2 linked regions of the Homo sapiens genome follow. The protein of the gene in region 2 purifies or fractionates together with the protein of the main gene of each other region. This does not show direct contact. Each region holds a gene or a part of one and is shown on either strand. Other genes may lie near its edges.

Region 1 (3,568 bases), on a different chromosome or scaffold from region 2:
TAGTTAACTCCTCTGAGCCTCTGTTCATTCATGTCCGCAGTAGATATCAGAGCTGTGTCCTTTCTTCATATGTGTGTTAGGAGATAACACGAAAGCTTTCATGGAAACACTTGGAAATTAAGGTGCTATAGACAAATCCTTTAATTAAAATAGAAAAAAATACATTCTTTGGTTGATTTGAAATTTTGTCTGAAGTAGATGTTACGCTACTTGGTTTTAGGAATCTTTTTTTTTTTTTTTTTTTTTGCCTGAGACGGAGTTCACTCTTGTTGTCTATGCTGGAGTGCAGTGGCACTAACTCAGCTCACTGCAACCTCCGCCTCCCAGATTCAAGCAATTCTCTCGCCTCAGCTTCCTGAGTAGCTGGGGTTATAGGTACGTGTCACCACACCCACCTAATTTTTGAATTTTTAGTAGAGACAGGGTTTCACCATGTTGGCCAGGCTGGTCTCGAACTCCTGACCTCAGATGATCCACCCGCCTCGGCCTCCCAAAGTGCTGGGATTACAGGCATGAGCCACCACGCCTGGCCAGAATCTTTTTATTATATGCAGATTATTTCATAGATAGGTATTTTATTATAACAAGATTTTAATTGCGTGTGTATAAATGATAGCACTATATATAAAATATATATATAAAATATAATATATATATATATATATACTTTTTTTTTTTTTTGAGACAGAGCCTTGCACTGCACCTCCCAGTCTGGAGTGCAGTGGTGCAATCTCGGCTCCCTGCAACCTCTACCTCCTGGGTTCAAGCGATTCTCCTTCCTCAGCTTCCCGAATAGCTGGGATTACAGGTGCACACCACCACATCCAGCTGATATTTTGTATTTTTAGTAGAGACAGGGTTTCACTGTGTTGGCCAGACTGGTCTTGAACTCTTGACCTCGTGATCCGCCCACCTTGGCCTCCCAAAGTGCTAGGATTACAGGCATGAGCCATCGTGCCGGGCTAATAGCACTATATTTTAAGATGCTTTGGTTTGCTATATTAGTGGTTATACCTTAAATTGTTGAAACATATCTTGTAAGTATAGATTAGGACTCTTGAATAGAAAATATTTAGGGGAACTATCTCATATTTTGCATGAATGAATGTTTGTGGTTGCTATGGGGATGATGAAGTGTACAATTAAAGATAATTGGATGGTTTTTAAGAAAACTCTCAGAAGCGTTTTGTGTAAACAGTGGTAATCTTGTTAAATCCCATTAAGATAAATCCAGAACATCAACGTGAGTATTAAACAACAGATTCTACATATTGGGATGTTTGTGGACACCACAGAGTAGGGAAAGGAGCAAGAAAGTCTCTAACTTCTTAGTGGATTATGTGGTTTGTTGGTTTTTAACTTGACTGAAAGCACTGTTGGCCGGGCGCAGTGGCTCACGCCAGTAATCCCAGCACTTTGGGAGGCCGAGGCGGGCGGATCACGAGGTCAGGAGATCGAGACCATCCTGGCTAACACGGTGAAACCCCGTCTCTATTAAAAACACAAAAAATTAGCCGGGCGTGGTGGCGGGCGCCTGTGGTCCCAGCTACTCAGGAGACTGAGGCAGGAGAATAGAGTGAACCCGGGAGTGGGAGCGTGCAGTGAGCCGAGATAGCGCCACTGCAGTCCAGCCTGGGCGAAAGAGCGAGACTCCGTCTCAAAAAAAAAAAAAAAAAAAAAGCAAGCACTGTTATTTGGGAAATGCCTGGTTTTTAGAGACAAATGAACAGAGATTTCAGCAGTGTAATTTCAGTCTTGACATGAACTATGACCAGAACTTTGAGCCGATGTGGTTTTTTGTGTGTGTGTGTGTGTGTGTGTTTTTTTTACAGAGTTTCTGTCTTGTCGCCCAGGCTGGAGTGCAGTGGCACGATCTCGGCTCACTGCAACCTCCGCCTACTGGGTTCAAGTGATTCTCCTGCCTCAGCCTCCTGAGTAGCTGGGATTACAGGCGCACACCACCATGCCTGGCTAATTTTTTGTATTTTTAGTATTTTTAGTACAGATGGGCCTTCACCATGTTGGCCAGGCTGGTCTCGAACTCCTGACCTCAGGTGATCCACCTGCCTCGGCCTTCCAAAGTGCTGAAATTACAGACATGAGCCACCATGCCTGGCCCTGTTGTGTTTCTTATGAATTTTTGACATTTTAAATTTTTAAAAATTCAGGTTCTTATTTCTAGTGCTAACTAAACTATAATACTTAAACTTTCCAGGATCTCTGTTTCCATTTGTAGCATGCAAGTATTATATTCTAACTGAAGATTATTGAGAGCATTTTCTTTAACTTCCACAATGTGGTTGGTTCTTACTTGATTTCTTGGTAGAACGTTAATAAGTCAACTCTATGATGGGGTTTTATTACTTTGTGTGTGTGTGTGTGTGTGTGTGTGTGTGTGTGTAGCCAAATGTTGTTTATTTGAAACCCATGTGATAAAAGTTTTAAAATATTAATATCCTCGCTATTTTAGGATGCACATTCACAAGGTGAGGTGGTATCATGCTTGGAGAAAGGCCTGGTGAAAGAAGCAGAAGAAAGAGAACCCAAGATTCAAGTTTCTGAACTCTGCAAGAAAGCCATTCTCCGGGTGGCTGAGCTGTCATCGGATGACTTTCACTTAGACCGGCATTTATATTTTGCTTGCCGAGATGATCGGGAGCGTTTTTGTGAAAATGTGAGTCAGCTCAGAAACTGTTCTTTTCTTCCTTTTATTTTTACACATATATAATTTTGTTTTAATTAATTTAATTGTGTTGTTTTTTGAGAGATTGAGTCTTGCTATGTTGCCCAGGCTGGTCACGAACTTCTGACCTGAAGCAGTGCTCCAGCTCAGCCTCCCCAATTTTTGAGACAGGATCTTGCTGTGGTGCCCAGGCTGGAGTGCAGTGGTGTGATCATGGCTCACTGCAGCCTCCAACTTCTGGGTTCAAGCGATTCTTCTGCCTCAGCCTCCCAAGTAGCTAAAACCATAGGCAAGCACCATCTTGCCTGGCCAATTTTTTTAAAAATTTTTTGTAGAGATGGGGCATTGCTGTATTGCCCGGACTGGTCTTGAACCCCTGGCCTGAGGTGATCTCCTCCCTCTGTCTCTGAAAGTACTAGGATTATAGGCACGAGCCACTGTGACTTAAATATTTTTTAATACTCTATTCTAACGTAAAATAAGCCATCAAGAAACCTCACATGTAGAAAAGCCACAGAAATGGAAGAAGAAATTGGTCCCAGTATAGCAGAAAGTGGTAACTGGATGCTCAACCTTGATGACTGAACATTTGGTTAACAGCTGGCTTCTAATGATCTCCACTTAGTATTTTTTCTGCTTTATCTCACTTCTCAATTTCAGTTCTTGGAAGTCTGTTTTATCTATAGGAATTTTATTTTACCCAGGATCTTATTTACATCTATTCAATGGCTAAAACTTTGACGCATTATATATTTATGTGTTTTTGGCTAAGGTGAAGAAAACAGCAGGTGGCTAATCTTTAAAACCAAATCCTTGATTACCACCTGCTGACTCTACAGAACAGCCTTCTAAGTCTTTAAATAGAATGGTCTCTCCATCCTTACA
Region 2 (4,034 bases):
TGGGGCTTTCCAGACAAACATTTGAGAAAGGAGCTAAATGATTCATGTGGTCCATAAAGGTATCATTTTTATAGACTGGTGATTATTTTATTATTACTATTTTTTTGAGACAGAGTTTCGCTCTTGTCGCCCATGCTGGAGTGCAATGGCGTGCTCTCGGCTCACTGCAACCTCCGCCTCCTGGGTTCAAGTGATTCTCCTGCCTTAGCCTTCCTAGTAGCTGGGATTACAGGCGGCTGCTACCTTGCCTGGCTAATTTTTGTATTTTTAGTGGAGACGGGGTTTCGCTATGTTGGTCAGGCTGGCCTCAAACTCCTGACCTCAGGTGATCCAAACGCCTCGGCCTCCCAAAATGCTGGGATTACAGGCATGCACCACCATGCCCGGTCCTAGACTAGTGATTTTATAGATGGCATTTCTTCACACGACTAAAAGCAGTCTAAACTGAAAACGATGCCAAAACACTAGACTTCAGTCAACAGTCTTAAAAGCCTACACTCCCAAATAGACTATTTGATAAACCCTCTGACTTCTAAGAAACTCAAAGGAAAAACACCACCAGGAGAGCCGAGTGCCCCCAGAATTGTCCTTGGACCATCTGTAGATCTTGTCTTATGATCCACTTATGCTGAGTGTAAACAGAGATACTGCTGTAAATAGAAGCCAAAATGTCCCTGCACTCAGATGGCTACATCTGGGAGCTCTGCCAAATTAGAGGATTTATGCGTCAGAGCCAGGTGGGTTCCACAGCAGAAGCTGGGGTCTCAAATCTGAACTTCTGCTTAACACACACTTGGTACCTACTCTGACACTATCGTGACCCTTGGTAAAGTGACTATTAATTCCTACCGCTGGGGCTTTCCTGGGCCCTGTACACATCCTCCTGACTCTCCTTGGAGACTATGTAGGTAGCTGGCTGAGGGGTGTGGCTAGGACCTTCGGTCAAGCTCTTCTATCAAGAGGCTGGCCCTGAAGAGCCACACTTGTAACTGATCAACAGCTTAACAAGCTGGTCGGGGTAGAACTCCGAATCCTTCACCGTTCCTGCGTCTCAGAAGCTGGCTAACATCTCCCTCCCTCCAGGGTGGTAGAATCCACTTTGAAATGTTCTCTCTCCCTGGCCCTCCCACTCCCTAACCTTTGCCCTCTTTCTAATTGCCCTGATCTCATCCCAACCTCCATAGCTATGTTTAAAGTCCACCTCTGGGGAACAGACAGATTGAATGTTCCAGATAATCCCTTTCCCAGTCCTGCCTGACATCTGGGTAGGGGGTTTGTCCCTGGAATTCTGGGACACTGGCTGGGGTTTGAGGAGAGAAGCCAGTACCTACCTGGCTGCAGGATGAAGCTGGCCAGTGGCTTCTTGGTTTTGTGGCTCAGCCTTGGGGGTGGCCTGGCTCAGAGCGACACGAGCCCTGACACGGAGGAGTCCTATTCAGACTGGGGCCTTCGGCACCTCCGGGGAAGCTTTGAATCCGTCAATAGCTACTTCGATTCTTTTCTGGAGCTGCTGGGAGGGAAGAATGGAGTCTGTCAGTACAGGTGCCGATATGGTGAGTGTGCGGTTTCTCTTTCTGTAAAAACTGTTGCTGGTGGACCCATGGACAGCCCCAGAGAGGTCACGATCTGTCTTGCACTTTTTCCTGTTATCCACTTAGAGCTGCCAGATTTAGCAGATAAAAATGTAGGACACCCAGTGAAATGTGAAATCCAAATAAACAACAAATAAGTCATTAGTATAAGTATGTCCAGTGAAATATCTGGGACATACTTATCCTGACAAATTCTTCGTTGTTTATCTCAAACTCACATTTCACTGAGCTTCCTGTATTGTATCTGGGAAACCTTCCCTGGGCCATTTTAATGAGTTTGTTGTGAGGCAGTTCTTAGGAAAAAAGGGTACCTGGGGTGGGAAGAAGGAGGGTGGGTATGAGAGGCCTCTGTGAGGAGTTCCCAGGGATGAAAACTGAAGCCGAACATTCAGAGAAAAATCTGCCATGGGGCAAAACCACCTCCTCAGCTGCTCTGTGCTCAGCTTGGAAACAAATTCTCCCTTCCCCCTGCTGCAGTTCACACCGTCCTCCCAGCTCTCAGTCCCTGACTGGCATCAATTTGCTGGACTTTCTCAAGGGAGCTGTCCCTGCCTGCAGCCTCGGCAACGACAGGCATGCTGTGGAGAGGAAGGGTTCGTGGCTCACCAGGGATCCCGGGGCTGTCCCCTGGACTTGGCGCCAGATGCAGATTTGTGAGCTGGCAGGAGCACTTCCCCTACCTTGCCTGAATATGGCTGGGGGTACACAGATATAAGGTGCACACCTGGCTGCCGGCACAGAGCCCCTGGTCCCAGGGGCCCTGGAAGTTAATGTAAGGGGAGCAAAATGTGGAGCCCCAGGCCTTGAAGCTGGGTGGCATCGTGTAATTGCCAATGCGCATGAAAACGTTTTCCAAAGCATGCACAGTCTCAGGTCTCAGGTAGCATTAGTTTTATGGTTTAATTTATCAACTATCTCATCAAGGGATTAGAAATGAAAATGGTGAGTCAATTTAGCCTAACAGGAAAACACATTTGAGAAATATTTTCTCCAAATACTCAACAGAGAAAAAGTCAGCTTTGAAGAGATGCACAAAAAAACTACATACTTCCCGGACTCACCCTTAAGTCTCTCTATTCCTTTTTGAGTGGGGAAAATCGCTTCCTTATACACTAAGAGTGACTAGGAGGTAATGGTTAATCATTGCATCAGGACCCAAAGTTTTGCAGCATAGATGTTTTAACAATCTATGGTTAAAATCTATGTTTTAACCATCTATGTTTTAACCATCTATGCTGCAGCTTCTTTGTGAAAGTTTCACAGAGAAAAATGCCTGGTCTGTTAGGACCCACCTGGCCCTAAAACCATGTATTTGTCCAAGGCAGTTGGACCAACGCAGAGGCCTTGCCACTGGATTATGCTCACACTGTTTGCACGGATGGGACAGGGAAGGGGTTGACTCACTTCAGACATTGGAATCAACACAGGTGTTTTCCTTCCTAAAGGCAACACAGGACTAGTATCTGTAGTTCAGCAAATAGGCAACAGCAGGAATTTTTATTAGGAAATCAAGAACCAAATCCTATTCTTCCTTCTCTAGCAAAACAGCATTAAAAGACTTAAGCAAATTTTAGTTGCGGAGCCTCTGGCTGGGCAGGGTGGAAGCCAGCAGCAACTGGTGGGGGATGGGAAGAGTAAATAGAAGAGAAAGGCAAATAACTCTTCTCACTTTGTGTAAAACAACCTGCTCAAAGAGGGGCCTGAAAAACACTTAGAAAAATAGGCGGTTATGCCTCCTTACCTTGGAACCCAGTAGAGCCAAAAACCTGGCGGCTGTGCCCAAAAGAGTACAAAATACCTTCTCAAACTGATTGTGAATCGAGCAATCTTTTGAACAGACAACACCTAACAACGAGTCTGCTCTTTTGTAGTTTGCTTTGTGACACATCTCTCATGCACCGTGCTCGTCTTTTAAGTAGTGGTTCTCAAACTCACCTGTGAATTGAAGCCCCTGGAGGGCAGATTCAACCAGATCTCTGGGCCCCACCCCAGGTGTTTCTGATTAGTAGGAGATTCTGGGCTTAGGAGATCCTCCTGCCTCAGCCTCCCAGTTAGCTTGGGCTACAGGTGTGCGCCACCATGCCCAGATAATTTTGTAACTTTTTGTAGAGCAGGGAGTCTCACCATCTTGCCCAGGCTGGTCTCCAACTCCAGGGCTCAAGCAATCCTCCCAACTTGGCCTCCCAGATTGCTGGGATTATAGGCGTGAGCCACGGCACCAGCCAGATTTTACCTTTGATAGGTACTAACTACTATTTAAAACAGTGGGTTTCTAACTTGGGTACACTTCAGATCACCTGAGGGGCTTTAACAACACCTGGCACCAAATCAATTAAATCAAAATTTCTGTGGGTTGGCCCCAGACATCAGTATTTTAACATTTTTCCCAGGTGATTGCAAAGCACAGCCAAGGTAAAGGGGTGCCATTCTATGACGTCATTC

Evidence for each region. The genes of interacting proteins can lie anywhere in the genome.
Region 1: the proteins of PLA2G12B (region 2) and GLG1 purify together in Homo sapiens (affinity purification with mass spectrometry, with the first as the bait; one large-scale study listed by BioGRID). This does not show direct contact.

Annotation. Positions count from the first base shown.
Region 1 is NC_000016.10:74,495,547-74,499,114, reverse strand, and holds part of GLG1 (Golgi apparatus protein 1 isoform 3 precursor), read left to right. Parts: intron 1-2,470; coding exon 2,471-2,674; intron 2,675-3,568. UniProt on the Homo sapiens protein: Binds fibroblast growth factor and E-selectin (cell-adhesion lectin on endothelial cells mediating the binding of neutrophils).
Region 2 is NC_000010.11:72,951,994-72,956,027, reverse strand, and holds the start of PLA2G12B (group XIIB secretory phospholipase A2-like protein isoform a precursor), read left to right. Parts: upstream 1-1,221; 5' UTR 1,222-1,342; coding exon 1,343-1,553; intron 1,554-4,034.